Linked DNA regions of Homo sapiens: regions 1 and 2 are each linked to region 3. The links come from fine-mapping of genetic effects on gene expression. A gene starts in region 3. Each other region holds a variant in brackets. All regions are shown on one strand. Distances are from middle to middle.

Region 1 (5,223 bases), 160 kb after region 3:
ATTAGGGGACAGCCCAGGAGGTGTTCCTTAGCCCAAGAGGGATCCTAAGCCAGACATTTCACCCCATGTCTCTGGATACTAAGAAGCTAAAATGGTCACAGCAGTGCCCATCCTGACTGAGGACACTGCTTTCCAGATAAAGAGAGGTCTCTCAGGGCCTCCGTCTACCCCTTAGTAAAAGGTTTATTTTGCCTGTGGGAGGAGAGCATTGAGATCGCTGGCTGAAGTAAAAACTAAGGAGTTGGGTTGGGGGTGATAAACCCCTTTACCTATGGGAGGGCTTTGCCGTGGCTCACTTGGGCCGGAGGATAGGTAGGCGTGGTCGTAGGCAGCGGAGGGTGTGGGGGCCACTCATCCCTTCAGAAGCCACCACTCACGCTGGATTACTGACCAGGGTTTTGGCGCGTAACTCATTCCATCCTCCAAGGTACTGTTGTGCTTTCAGTCTCCAGGTCACCCGCAGGGTAGGTGACCAGAGCCAGAGAAGCGGTTTATTCCCGGGGCTCCGCACTGCACCCACGCGCCCGCGCCTGTGTTTGACTGCACGAGGATTCTCCGGAGGTGTCCCTTCCTGCCAGCCAGGCCTCACCCCTGGGTACGCATAGGTCAGAGGCCCACGATGAGAGTGAGAGAGAACGTGCCGCTCTCTCCAAAGCAGCCACTTTTCTGCAACAGTGGGAGTTGCTGAGGGAGGAGGAAGAGGATAGTGAAACTTTTTTTTAAAAGGCCGACTCCTCAGAGGCTGGCCTTTGCCCCATCTTTCAAGTCCCCGAAGTCTCCAGGCTGTTTCCCTGATGTTTGCAGGGCCCTCCCGAGCACACACTCAGCAGCACGCTCGACTTCTCCCACACAAAGGCCCTGGCCTCCCACAGGCCTCCCTCCATTGTGTCTGCCTGGGGGAGGGCCCTTCTCCTTCAGGATACTGTAGCTTCTCTGCGTGACAAGCCAGCATTCACGGCTTTCAGGTGCCAGCCTGGAGAGGGACACCCACCACGGGCTTGGTGTGCTGGGGTCACAATGGCCTTATTATGGCGGTCGCTCCGGTGGGGCCTGGCCAGGGAGCCTGGGAGATCAAAAGCCTGGGAACCAAGTCCCCAACAAAGGACCCGAGGACGGCCTTATCCAGGCTTTGCATCTCTCTGGGGGTTTGAAAGGAGCTGCTCTTGCTGGCTCCGGTGCAGGGGATGAATGCCAGTGAATGCCAGTGTTCAGCAGGGCTCCTGGTGAGTGAGGAGGGAATAAAGCCTCCCCTTGGCCTCACCCCGTGTGAAAGGGAAGAGGAGGAGGCAGAGGTGGCCTGGAGATGCCAGCTGAAATGGCAGGACCCGGCCCTCTTCCCGCTAAAAGGGCACCACTGCAAGGGAAGGGCTGGTTTGGAGCCCCAGGGGGTACCCACAGGGTAATCAGTCCCTTAGTGGGAGATTCCCTTCCCTGGGTGACAGGGCCCTGCCTTCCCGGGAGCAGAGAAGAAAAAGATTGGGGAGGAGAACAAGAAGCAAGAGTGTCGGTCGCTGTCTGCCAGCCCCGGGCCTGGCGTTCAGTTTTAAGGCCTCCCAAGGGGCCCAGCAGGCCTGACCTCCCAGTGGGGACACAGCTGACGCACTTGTCTGAGGCTTGGCTCTGGAGTCTGGCGGGAACTTAGCAAGGAAACGCTGTCTGCCCGGGGGACTCAACACAGCCTTGCGGTCCCTGTGGTCCTGGCTCTGCCCACACCCAATCTTGGGAATGAAAACATTCCACCCAGAAAGTAGAAGGAAGAGCTGTAGCCTCTCCTGTGAGTCATCAGCAGGGGGAGAGAGGCTGAGGCAGCTGTGGAGAGAGCAGGGCCTTGGAAACCACGAGAGCTGGGGCTCAGCTGTGTGGCCTGGAGCAACTTCTGAGCCACAGAGGGCTGAGCACAGAGGCCCTGTCCTTCCATTCAGGATCAGCAGGAGGAAGAAGCTGCCCTGTCTCAGGTAAGGGCCAGGTAGAGCTGCCTGCTATGTTATGGACGCCCAGCTAAAGGTGGCCTGGCGTCCGTGGAATCACTCCCCGGGGAGGTTGTGTGTACCTCCCCAATCCCTCCCCTGGATCCCAAACCACATCCTTGGCCTTGCCTTGCTGTATTGCCATGTCCTATTTCTCAGCCTCTCCCTTACACTGAGCTTGCTCGTTGAGAGCAGGGATTTTGTATCCCAGGACCTGGCACAGACCTCTCCTGTGAGTGAGTGGTTCAGTCTGTAAGTCAAGCCTAGAGAAGCACAGCCCATCTGAAATAGGCTTTGTGACTTCTCTTCCTTCTCCTCTGAATTTCCAGGGTGCTGTCGTCTCTATCTCTGACCTGACATTTGCCACACTGACCTGTTCTAACAGTTATTTGTGTATGTGGGTCACAAGCTGGGCCTGTGCTGTCAGCTCTGGGTTTGAGTCCTGGTTTCATCACTAACTATGACTGTTGTTATTCCACATCTCAACTTCAGGTTCTTCTGC[G/A]AAGTGGTTAGAAGCCATCAGTGGAGCACCTCCTTTTTGGTACAGTACCTAGCATATCATGGATGCTTAGTAAATAGTTCCTCCTAAGAACTCGTGCCCCTGACATGTGAACATACATGCATGGAGGTACACAAGTGTGCTGGGCTCAAGCCCCTGTTGGGGGCCCCACATCAGATTTATGTTTCTTTTCTTCTCTGCAGCTAGTGCAGCATTTTGCATGTACAGGTAGTAGTGTTTGTTGAAGGTGGGGACAGGTGGTGTTGTGGTCTCCTCCTCCAGGGCAGCCCCCCTCTGGCTCCAGCTCTTGGCCTGTGAGCAGCCAGAGTGGCTTCTCTTGTCCATTTGCTGCCTGGGCCCTCCAAGGATCACTGGAGACACCTTTCCCTGGCTCATCCCAGTGGGCTGGGACCTGCGGAAATCATCTGACGAATTCTCATTTCCTACAAAGATGCTGCATGTGTCTGCCAAGCAAGTTGATTTCCTGTTCTCTCGATTTACCCTCTGTCTTCTCTGGTCCCAGCCTTTCTTCCAAGTTTCAGCCATGTTATAAAATCTAACATTAATACTGTATCTTTCCAGATACCCCTTCCCCAAAGAGAGGAGTCTCCCATACTCTTATAAAACATTATCGAGGCCGGGCACAGTGGCTCATGCCTGTAATCCCAGCACTTTGGGAGGCCAAGGCAGGCAGATCATGAGGTCAGGAATTCGAGACCATCCTGGCTAACACGGTGAAACCCTGTCTCTGCTAAAAATACAAAAAATTAGCTGGGTGTGGTGGTGGGCACCTGTAGTCCCAGCTACTCTGGAGGCTGAGGCAGGAGAATGGCGTGAACCCAGTAGGCAGCGCTTGTAGTGAGCCAAGTTCGCGCCACTGCACTCCAGCCTGGGCAACAGAGTGAGACTCCGTCTCAAAAAAAAAAAAAACAAAACAAAAAACAAAACAAAACATCGAAATCTCTAGCAACATTAGAAATAATGTCACTACTGTCTACCTCTTTGACCCTCCCCTTTGCACAAACCCCTCCTGGCAGGTAGGTACCCAGTCTCAGAGGCCCAGACATCTGCATGAAGCAAATGCTCCCTAAACAGGTCTCGTCCTGTCTCCTGCTAGACTGGTTGTAGGGTTCAGGTCCCCACATGGGTTTCCCAACAGCAATCTGAAGTGTGTACTTCTATCAGCAGTGAGAGAGAAATGAATTGTTCTCAAGGGCATTTTTTTTAAGGACAGTTTTTCAATGGGATCCTTGCTGCTCTGAACTCTTCTGGTGCTTCTGTTTTATAGTTATTGATTTTGGAGATCATAAAAGTAATACAGGTATTATAAGAATGTGGGAACATTATAGAAATGTGTAACTTGGAGAGTACGAGCATCCATGCTTCAGAAAGAACCGCTGCCAATGCCTGGTGTATTCTTGGTTGCTCCTTGGCGTTTTGTCTCTTATCTCCAAAGAGGGGCGCCAGTGTCAGCTTCTTGTGTAGCATCTGCTGGGGGGCAGTGTTTGCTATTACTTGACTTCAGTGGGTGGGCTGCTTCAAGGAACATGTCTTCTGAGGGCAGCAGCAGTCACCTGAGACACAGCAGCGTGTAGTGGGGAAAGTCTGGGCACTGCCATCTAGAACCCAAGAGAAACGGGGCTGAGCCTCAGTCTTCCTCATCTGTGCAGTGGGCATACTAAGAACAACTCTGTTTTGGAGGGAGATTGGGACTAAACAGCGAGATCATGGGTGGGAACACACTCTACACTCTAAATTCTATGTAATATCCTTTGATTTTGAAAAATTGTTATTGTCACCACCAAATAGGCCCCTTGGGCTTCTGAGCCAGTAGACTCAAGATTTAGTCCAAAGGTTTAGAATTTCATTCTCTTCATTATTTATACACACACACAACAGTCCGATGACGGGAGCTGCTGTGAGCTTTGCAGATGGATGTAGGCAGGTCTTGCTGTGATCTCCTTCCAGGAGCATTGGCTCTAGAAGTGGCTGACACACGTGTCTAGGGCCCTCCAGATCCACTGGAAGAGCAGAGAGTAAACTAAAGCAGCATGAGCCACGTGTCCCCATGGGCCAGTCTGTGAACAGCATGGTTTGCTTTCCTCTTGGAAAGTGGGGTGTTCCCCCTCCTGTCCAAGTGTGGTGGAAATACTGATACCATTGGGCCCCACTCCCTTTCTCCCCACAGCATTGTCCTGCCTGGCTGGCAGAGGGAACACCTTTCTCTTGGGTCTTCAGGGTGTCAGAGATATGGGCACTGTGGAAGGCAGAGACAGGTGAAATGGTGTATGTGACTGGGAAGCTGGGAAGAGGTGTGCTCTGGCAGAAAAGGAGGCTGAAAAGAAGAGGAGGCCCAGAACAGAATCCACCCATCCCCCAGCCCTTTGAAGCTGTGTTTCTCCCATGGCCGTGCCTTCAAATTTACTCTCTCCCAGGCCAGACCGGTTGCAGTGGCTGGACCATCCCACGCCTCTGCCTCTCTCAGGTCCAGAGCCGCTCAGCTCGTGACATGATACCAGGCCTAGGTGGCAGAGGAGGCAGCACTGCCTCAAGAGGAGCATGAGTTGGGGGACTTCTCTGGGACCAAGGGACCCAGCCTTGTCATGGTGCTTACTCTATTCCAAACTCTGTGCATGTTTCTGCCCTAGCGCAGCCCATGTGAAGGTGGGAGAGCAGAGGCCCTGGGAGCTGGGGTGCTGCTGTCAGATTTGCTTCCTCTCTTGGGACTCTACTCCCGAGGCTTCAGTTATCTGAGTT
Region 2 (5,223 bases), 110 kb after region 3:
CTTTCTGACTTAGATACCTGTAGTAGTCTACCGGGGCTGCCATAACAAATACCATAGACTGGATGACTTAAACAACAAAAATTTATTTCTCAATGTCCTGGAGGCTGGGAAGTCCAAGATCAAGGTGCCGGTCATTTACATTCCTGGTGATGGCCCTCTTCCCGACTGGAAGATGTGTACTGTGTGTACACATGACCTCTTTTGTACTTGATGGGGAGAGAGAGCTCTCTGATGTCCCTTATAAGGACACTAATCATGTGGGCCCTACTCTTATGACCTCATCTAAACCCAAGTATCTCTCAAAGGCCCATCTCCAAATCCCATCAAATTGGGGGTTAAGGCTTTGACATATAAATTTTGGGGGGACTCATAGCAACACCTTTGTTCTTTGCACTATATTGTAGTGTCAGAAAGAGAGGTCTTATGTTGGGAGAAGGATTAAGTTGATGGTTCCTGATCTTTTTTTTTTTGCCATCGTTCCTTTCCCGAGGTCTCTGTGAGCCCATCTCTTATCACATCCTGTGACTAACACTCATCATGAGGAGCATGACACTCCCCCAGCCCTCCTTTCCAGTGTTGGGGTTAGGGCTGCTAGATGTTCCTCTGTGTCTTGACTGATTTTTCAGACTAGTGGGAAATACATATGGTTGAGGTTTGAAACTATGTGCCCAGATATAAATTGAGCCCAGAATAAGCCAAAGCTTAAAAAAAAAATCAGAGCTTTCCTTCCCCATGTTTCTGTACCTTACATTCTAGCCACACTATTTTAGAGAAGGCCAGAGGATGGAGATAGGCTTTCACATCAGAGACACAGAATATAACTGAAGATGTGAAGTATCTCCCAGGCATTGACGTGACCTGGATGTCTCAAGTTGAATGAAGCTAGCCCTCCCACATCAGCAAGTGCCTGTGTGGAGGTAAACACAGCTGCCTTTATTCCAGCATCTTAAACACTGAAATAGGCTGCTCTCTGGTTACATTCAAGTAGACACTTGGGTTTTGATTTTCCTTTTGGAAGACTTGTTTGCAGAACAGATCTATCAACTCAACATGGTTGAGGCAGGATTGGTGGAGAGGGTGGGGCACAGGATGGTAGGGATGTCAGAAAGAGATGTGCAAACAGAGAAGCCTCAGTTCTTCAGCCCATTTTTCAGTTGTGACAGTCCTGTTATATGCAAGAGGGTTTGTGCTAAGTTTAATGGAAATTTTTAACCAAAGAGAGCAGTTTCTGGATTCAGAGAGACCAGGGATCAAGACTGGGCTAGCTGTGTGACCTTGGGCAAGTGACTTCATTTTTCTAAGTCTGTTTTGTCTTTTATGAAATGAGGATAATAATAGCACTAACCTCATGGTCATTGGGAGGATTGAGATAATGCTAAAAGCATCCTTAGCACAGGGTCTGGTAATTTAATAAAGGTTTAATAAATATTAGCCATATGATTCTTATTACTGTGAACAGTTAAGAAATAGTAAAGTGATACATAATGGGTGAGTACGAGGCATGAGAACACAGGCCAACGTGATGAATTGCCCCATGAATAGTGCTGTGTATAACCCTCTCCAGGCCAGGTGTCATGCTCCCACCTGTAATCCCAGCTCTTTGGGAGGCTGAGGCAGGAGGATCGCTTGAGTCCAAGTGTTTGAGACCAGCTTTAATGAAACCCCAGTTTCTACAAAAAATACAAATAAAATGAAAAGCTGGGCGTGATGATGCATACTGCACTCCAGCCTGGGCAACAGAGCAAGATCCTGTCTCAGAAAAAACTTCTCCAGCAGTTTGGATGAGGTGAGCTCACTTTGAACTAGAGAGTCTGGGACAGAATCCTCAAAGAGTGGTGCCTGGAGTTGAAGTTTGGGTGAGGCTAAGTTCTTACAAGGAGAGCCAGCTGTTTCTCCTTTCCACAGAGAAAAGAACAAGAGGAAATGACTTTTTCAGTTCTCCATTCTACTGAACCCAAATGGTAATAAACTTTTTGATGGAGTATCCAAGTCTGGAGTCAAAGCCTAAATCAGATTCTTTGGGTCACTCATCCCAGCCACCCTGGCCACTTTCTATCTGTAGGGTTAGTATGTACCTGGGAAATACAAATTTATTTAAATAGTAGCCAATGCAAAGGATGACTAGGAAGGTAGATGTTTTATGTAACTGAGTCTTGTAATGCAGTCATTATTATAAGTGGCCTTTCCATTTAAGACATGTCTTTGAAAATAGACTCTAGTTTAAATGTTAGCAGATAGACTTTGAAGTAATTATGAGGAAGAACTTGGGACTGAGGATGGTCAAATTCTAAAACACAGTATTGGATCCAAAGACAGGTTTCTCCACCCTTTAAGAATAAATCTGTCAGGCCAGGTGCGGTGGCTCACCCCGTAGTCCCAGAACTTTGAGAGGCCAAGGCAGGTGGATCACCTGAGGTCAGGAGTTTGAGACCAGCCTGGCCAGCATGGCAAAACCCTGACTCTACTAAAAATACAAAAATTAGCCAGGTGTGGTGGTGTGCGCCTGTAATCCCAGCCAGCTATTTTTGGGAGGCTGAGGCAGGAGAATCGCTTGAACCTGGGAGACAGAGGTTGCAGTGAGCCAAGATCGTGCCACACTGCACTCCAGCCTGGGGGACAGAGAGAGAATTTGTCTCAAAAAAAAAAAAAATCCATCAGAAACGTCTCACCTCAATATAGCGGCCAATGTTGTCCCATGTAAAAGTCAGGGCACATGGTCTATTGATATGAAAACCATAAATCAGAATATTTCCCATTGAAACTGCCTTAGGCACAGCTTGCACATTGTAATATCTCTCAAGGCAAGAAAATGACCTTTCAGAATAGACGTATTCTAGCTAAATCCCCAGGCATCCCAATCAACAATTCTGGCTTCCCTAAATTTCCATCTGCCAGAGTTCGGGCTGATTCTGGGAGTCTTCTTGTTTTGAATTCTCAATGGGGTGTTAGTGCGGTTTTTAACACCCCTCTCCAGCCTCACCCCTGATGTGGCTGCATTTTGGCAGCGAGGAAAAGTCTGGGTTAGAGGTTTGGGTTTCATGAGCCCTTCCAAGAACAAGAGCAGCTAAGCTGACACAAGAGCACACTCTCCCTAAACAGTCTTTTCTGCCA[C/A]CTCTCCCACTGATTTTATGTAACCGAGAAGAATTAGAAAAGTGTGAAAAAAGCAAGACTGATGTTTGCTGGTTCTTTGAAGAACCTGCTTGCCAATGTTCTTATAAGTGCTTTCAGTCTTTGAGTGTTGGGGTGTGTGTGTCGAAGCAGGGGCCATTGATTCATTGATTTATTTATTGAATAAATGTGGAGTGCTCTGCCCAGTACTGGGCTGTATACTGGGGTGGTCATTGAGTAGGTGGTTTGTGTCTTGGAGATCTTACAGCAGAATGAGAGAGGAACTGGGCAGGTAGTTCTCAGGCAACGCTTTTAGAGGGGTGATGGTGGAATCTGGAGTGCTGGGGGCATGTGGAGGATGGGCACACAATTAGACCTAGGAGAAAATGATATCCAAGTTGAAATCAGAAGTGGGAGCAGGCAGAAAGGGCAGTTGAGGATCTAACGTTCTTGCCACCACCACTCACTCCATGCCCTCCTGCCTCCTCAAACTCCCTGGGAGGACTTTTTCTCGGCAGAAATAAATGCTCAGAGATGAAGTTTCCGGAAACCAGAGATCAGTTATCTGCAGCCGGCCTGAGACAGGAAACGCACATTTTCCTTCTCTCTCCAACCACCCTGCTTCTGTTCTTGTTGGGAGGGGGGAGGTGGTGTGAAGAAAACCCCAGAGATTTTCAAGGAAAGAGGAGGTTCCAAGAATTGTGTTTGATCTCTGACAGGTCTGAGTTGAAATATCTTCCTTCTGAGTCAGTTGGTTGCCTGAAACCCAAAGGGAAATCCACCTCCGATTTTTCCATCTCTTTAACAGAGTGTTGACTGTAAGAGAGGGGGACCCACAGTAGGGGGGAAGAGCTGGGAGGGGACGGGAGGAAGGTGAGCCTGGATCCAGCTCACAGGCTGATGCCATAGACCAGTCCCAGGCCTGATGCCACGAGGTAATGATAACTGCAGACACTTGCTTAGCCTTTTAGTATATGCCAGGTTCCAAGTGCTTCATATGTGTCAACTCTTTTAAAACTCCCCACACCCTGTGAGATAGATACTGTATCCCTGTCTTACAAGGAGGAAGTACAGATACAGAGAGGTGGAATAACTCACCCAGAGTCATGTAGCCAGTAAGTGCCTGAGCTGGGATTTGAACCCAAGCCTCCCACATGCTTAAACCCTTAGTAAGTGGGCTGCAAGAGCCACACAGAGCTGGCATTATCCAGATTTGGGCTTGATGTACCTGGACATAGGTTCATGAATAGATCATGAGGTAAGGGGGGCATTGCCCTTCTGAGGAGCCTAGTTTTGGAGGGATTAAGATGAGGGCTCTTCTTGGTCTGGGTGACTCTGCCTGATGATGTGTTACTACCTTGTACCTGCTGTGGCTGAGAAACAGACTTGGCTTTCAGGTTAAGAAGGGTTGTTAGAAATGGCAGATTGGAAACCCATGGGGTTGGCGCATGTGGTTTGGCCTAAAAGTTGTTTAGAAATCTGGACATCTCACCTAGAACTCCAGGTTTCCGGCCTCTCTGGAAAGGTCAGATCTGGGCACTGGACTCACGGTCTGGTGTGGAGCCTGTCAGGGGAGCTGAGGCCTGGCTGCTGGCTTTAGAGGGACTTTCTTGGTCCTTACAGTACACACTCACTTGCCTCCCTTCTTTGCCTGCCTGCCCCTGTGGCATGGGGGGTACCACTGCCTGATTAGGTTGGCCTCCATTTGAGTTGGGATCTACCAATGTATGGCCCCTGGCAAAGCTCTGAGCATCGATCTTATCTGCAAAATGAGGATACACTCCTACCTGTGAGGCTGTTGGAGAATTTGAGATTCTGTGTGCAGACTGCCGAGCATAGTGTGCCACATAACTAGGAGCTCAATAAATGCTCTTCGTCAGTTTCCTCCATGTTTCTCACTATTCCCACTGCCACCCACTAGGATGCCGACACCCGAAGGGTGTGAGTACTCCATGTCCTGAGTCAAGGACACCACCTCCCATGGGCTCCCATGGAATGGACCAGAGAAGGGGAGGGGGCCTTTCTATCTGTTCCTGCTTAAGAGAAGCTGCCTCCTTGAAACATATCCTATTGCAGAAGTGAGGTGGGTGATTTCAGAGCATTCAGCAGTCAGGC
Region 3 (5,223 bases):
GGGATTACAGATGGGAGCCACTGCATCTGGCTCTGCCTTTTTGATTATAGTGATCCTAGTGGGTATGAAGTAGTATCTCATTGTGAGCCGTCTTGTTTTGAAGTTGCATTGGTATATCAAACACATTTTGTAACTGGTTCTGTCTTTTTGATTATAGCAATCTTAGCGGGTATGAAGTGGTATCTCATTGTGAGCAGTCTTGTTTTTAAGGTGCATTTGCATAGCAAACACATTTTGTCACTTACGCTACTTTGGTTCATTTGAGGTAACTGATGAAGGTTATGGAAGCTTAAATAAACTCCTATTCTCCCCTTTGGTTTCACTACTAAGTCCTGGCTGCCTTCTTTGTCAGAGGAATGCCTGCAGGAGGTGGATTAGGCCCAGGGTCCTGCAGTCCTTTAAGGAGAGCCCTTGCCACCCTCCTGTTATTCCCCTAGTTTCCCTTTTCCTCACCTTTGTCTCAGTCCAGAGATGAGGGTGGGTTGCAGGGGGAAAGGGCTGATCAATCTTTTTGACTTTATGCCCCCTTTGTGGCTTTGACGTGGCCTGATCAGCTCACCAGTCGTCTTAGTCCATATGGGCTAATATAACAAAATACCATAAACTGGGTGGCTTTATCAACAACAGAAATGTGTTGCTCATAGTTCTGGAGGCTGGGAAGTCCAAGACCAAGGCATTGGCAGATTCTATGTTTGATGAGGACGGTTTCCTGGTTCACAGATGGTGTCTTCTCACTGTGTCCTCAAATGGTGGCTGTGGGCAAGGGAGCTCTCTTGGGCCTCTTTATAAGGGCACTAATCCCATTCATGAGGGCTCCACACTCATGACCTAATCACCCCCCATAGGTCCCACCTCCAAATACCATCACCTGGGGGTGAAGATTTCAGCATATGAATTTGTGGGGGACGCATACACTCAGACCGTAGCGCAAGTTGGGGACAAAAGCTCTGAGTGTCAGCAGGGTTGCACTGGCTTGGAAATGCTGGAAATCTGGAAATTTCCAGATCAGGCATCACAAACTGCATGATCTAGGGCTCACATTGCATTAACAATGTTGTGTTTGGTCCACAGTGTTTCAAAATTGGAAAACTCGACATAAAAAATCCAGCCTTCTGGCTTTTCTTTAAAAATGTGCAGGCCCAACCATGCTGTTTCCACCTTTCTGCATTGCAGTATTTGGCTGAGGCTGAGCCCTGGCTGCCCTCTGAAGACTGGTGTGAGCTTTCAAATCCCCACAGTTCCCGCCACACACTGTTGCATCACAGTGGGCCCTCTCCACACATTTGTCACCTGTCTCATACTTGAGAATATTTATTAGTGCCCAATTCCTTCAGGGACCTAACAGGGTGAACTTAGGCCATAGTAGGTAACAGGGCTAAATACAGACACTTGGGATCCTGGCTTTCCAGCCATCCCCATACCATCTCCTCATGAGTACAAGCAAGTTTCAGGTGTAATGTGGGCATCTAATTTGTGATTTGTGGTTCTTGATCACTTTTATGGGCCAGCCACTGTTCTAAGAGTTTTGCATATATTAATTCATTTAATCCTCCTAGGAACCCAATCATAATCCCGGTTTACAGATGGGAAAACTAACACCCAGAGAAAACACTTGCTCACAGTCCATGGGTAATAGTTGCAGAGTCAGAATTTGAAGTCAGGAGCGAATGAGGTCATTTTGCAAGGTTGCTCATGACCTAGTGTCTGGTTCATTATGGGGGTTCAGTGGGTGCAAGCTTTATAATATTCATCTAGTCTTGCCAACTGCTGCTAACGTGCTGCATGGCTGAGGTTTAGTCCCAGCCAGATGTCCCATCACAAAAGTTAGGCATTGAAGTGGATGACATTTGTGTTTAGAGAAATGATATGTCTCATTCTTTTCAGCTCTAACTTGGGGTAAGTTTCTGAAAGCAAGTAAGAGAAAAGGAGAGGGACATTTGTGATCTCTCATGTATAGAAGACTAACAAAGAGGCAGGTGGTCACACCTGAAGGCACGTCCCCTGACCCTTATTACATAATGCCATGGGCTAAATGTCCAAAATTCCTCTCCCAGCTCTGATTGGCCTGGCTACTATGATGAGTGAAGTCCACCAGGGAAGACACTGTGGCCTCGTTTCTCATCCTCCTGTCCCCAGGAGTAACACAGAAGCAGCTAGTAACACAACAGCATTGTCCTCACATACACAGGCCTGCTTTGTTTCCCCACCACACAGAGCAGCCGCTGTAACAATGGCCCCGAATGACACTTTACCCTCCTTTCTCCAATGTTGCACTTGTTTTTTTAGTCTGGAATGGGCTAAACAATGATTTCCTGCAGGGGGTATCAGCTTTTTATATTTTCTGCCTGCTTCTCTGTCAGTCTTCAGGCCCCAGGTCAGTGAGTGGCAAGCCAGGCCCAGAGATCTCTGCGCCCGTTGGAACATCCCCTTCTCGGGAGGCTGGAAGGCCATGGTCATTCACCTCTCCCCAGCAAGGTGGGACCTGCCCTGGAAGAAGAAACCAGACCAGGTAACACAAGAGAGACAATGAGAGCTTGGGGCTAGGGGGTGGGGTTGCAGGGGATGGCTGAGTATCCAGCCCAAGGAGGATGGGTTTCTGGCTTCAAGACATCCGATTTTCTTGAAAGCCACCATCTGCTGTTAAATAAATAATGAAAAGCAACAGAGGTCAAGTTCAGCAGCCTCCCAGTTAGAAAAATACCCTCTGTCTGTCTGGCCCTGTTCAGTGCCTCTGATATCTCTGGGTGACCAGGGTCTTCATGGCCCATGTAGATTTACTGAGGTGGCTGTTGCCTTAATAATAGCTGCTAGTACTAAGCTCTTTCTCTATGTATTGCATATGTATACCTATTACTGTATGTCTCTCATTGAATGAATAGTAATGATAGCAAACCCTTATACAACATGCCTCAGATTCTTGCTTCTTTCAAACCCAGGGAGTCGGGTTCTAGAATCTGCGCTTTTCGTCATCATGCCCCTTGTAAAGCATTTTTTTTTACAACATCCTGCTAATAAACCAAGGTCATCACAATATTTCACTTTGAGAGGCAATGATATATGATGATAGCTATGTGTATTGTGAGTCCTTTGCCCTGTGCCAGGCAGCATTCTAACTGTTTTGCAGCTATTTCATCAGATAGATACTTTATGATCTCTATTTTATGGATGAGGAAATTGAAGTACGGATAATTTAAGTCATTCACCCGGGGTCACACAGTTGTTAAATGGCAGAGCCTGGATTTGAATTCAGTTTTCTCTTAAGTAGTATGGGAATCTTAGACCCGCCCAGCCCTGCTGGTCTGGAGTTATTCTGCTTCTCTAGGTCATGGTGTATAGAGGGTGACATTCAGTTTCTGGCTTCATAGAACATCTGCACCCAAGTTGACAGCTTAAGGAATTTTTTCGTTTGTTTATTTTAAATGATTTTTCTATTGGCATCAGCTTTTGTCTTGCTTGAAGAAGATGGAATTGCTCAATGACGACAGTGAAGGAATTTGAAAGGGTAAGAATTGCTCAATGAGTGGTATCTCTTTTTTGGCCAGAGACCAGGCTAAGTTGCCTCATATGTAAGAGAACATACGTCAAATACACAGGACTCATGGTATATTATGGAAGCAAACTTTATTTTTGCCTATCATTGTCCCTAATTTTTTTCAGCAGGTCCTCCCTCTTCCCTTGCCCTGGGATGAAAATTAAGGTAGGTCCACAACTCTTATGGGCCCCCTTCAGGAATCAAAAGTTCTTAAGTCGCTTTTAGTTCCAGCACAGCCTCATTCAGCAATTGGGATGTCCAGTCCCAGGGAATCAGCCAGATCTTTGAATTTGGTTCCCAGTGGAGACTTTTCTCCCTCCTCCAGTGGGGCCTGCAGCTTGGAAAGGGGGTCTGTGGTTGGCTTCTCATTTCCCACGTTAAGCTTCCATCCTTCTCTCCTCTGGCTTACTGATGATTCTGACTCCTGGCAGGGGGAAGGGGAAAAGAGAAGAGGCAGGAAAGGAGCTGGAAGTCCGTACTTGGTTAATGCTGTGGCAAGCTGGCATTTCAGTGGCAGGTTCTGGTGGGTGTGTAAACCTAGTTCTTTCTCTCTAGGCACAATCTTGTGGATACTTCAGAGAGCACCATTATTTCTCATCTTTGGGGATCTCTGAGTTGCTGGTCCCTTGAAGCTGGTTGCCTAATAAGACTCCTTCCTTAGTTCCCTGGCATCTAAGCAGTGCCGTATTAGTTTGCTGGGACTGCCATGACAAAATATCACAGACTGAGGGGCTTAAACCAGCAGTCCCCAATTTTTTTGGTACCAGAGACCAGTTTTGTAGATGACACTTTTTTCCACAGACCAGGGTAGGGATGGTTTCAGGATGATTCAAGTGCATTACATTTATTGAGAACCTTATTTATATTATTATTACATTGTAATATATAATGAAATAATTACACAATTCACCACAGTGTAGAATCAGTGGGAGCCCTAAACTTGTTTTCCTCCAATTAGACAGTCCCATATGGGGGTGATGGGAACCAGTGACAGATCATCAGGCATTAGATTCTCATAAGGAGCATGCAAACTAGACCCCTCACATGCGCAGTTCACAATAGGGTTTGTGCTCCTATGAGAATCTAATGCTGCTGCTGATCTGACAGGAGGTGGAGCTCAGGTGGTAATGTGAATGATTGGGAGCAGCTGTAAATATGGATGAAGCTTCGTGCTCTCTCTGTCCCTGCTGTGTGGCCTGGTTCCTAACAGACCACAGACCAGTACTGGTCCATGGCCCGGGAGTTGGGGGCCCCGGGCTTAAACAACAGAACTTAATTTTCTCCCAGTTCTGGAGGTTAAAAGTCCAAGATCAAGGTGTTGGAAGGTTTGTTTTCTCCTGAGGTCTCTGTCCTTGGCTTGTGGATGGCCACCTTCTCACTGAGTTCTCACATGGTCTTTCCTCTGTGTGTGCATTCCTGGTGTCTCTTGGCATGTGCAAATGTCCTCTTCTTATAAGGACAGCAGTCAGAGAGGATTAAGGCCTACCCTAAGGGGTTCATTTTAACTTAATCACATTTTTAAAGGTCCTGCTTCTAAATGCAGTCACATTCTAAGGTCCTGGGGGTTAGGGCTTCATCATATAAATTTTGGGAGGATAGTTGAGGCCACAACAAGTGCTGTCAGCTTTTCTCTGAAGGTAAATTTCCATTCCTCCTGGTGGTCCTTGTCAGAAGGACCTACACATCCCAGA

What was found.
Region 1: its variant is fine-mapped to the expression of PRR5L in whole blood (TOPMed, PIP 0.98).
Region 2: its variant is fine-mapped to the expression of PRR5L in whole blood (INTERVAL, PIP above 0.99).

Annotation. Positions count from the first base shown.
Region 1 is chr11:36,454,224-36,459,446 of GRCh38, forward strand. The region is part of intron 8 of PRR5L (proline rich 5 like); the gene reads left to right. Among named protein-coding and RNA genes, the nearest start is that of TRAF6, 53 kb to the right of the region's middle. RefSeq lists an enhancer at 1,028-1,552. The variant G/A (reference allele first, on the strand shown) is at 2,470.
Region 2 is chr11:36,405,646-36,410,868 of GRCh38, forward strand. The region is part of intron 3 of PRR5L (proline rich 5 like); the gene reads left to right. Among named protein-coding and RNA genes, the nearest start is that of TRAF6, 100 kb to the right of the region's middle. The variant C/A (reference allele first, on the strand shown) is at 3,112.
Region 3 is chr11:36,293,930-36,299,152 of GRCh38, forward strand. It overlaps PRR5L (proline rich 5 like), which reads left to right and starts at 2,359. Exons shown (of 9, transcript NM_001160167.2): 1 at 2,359-2,509.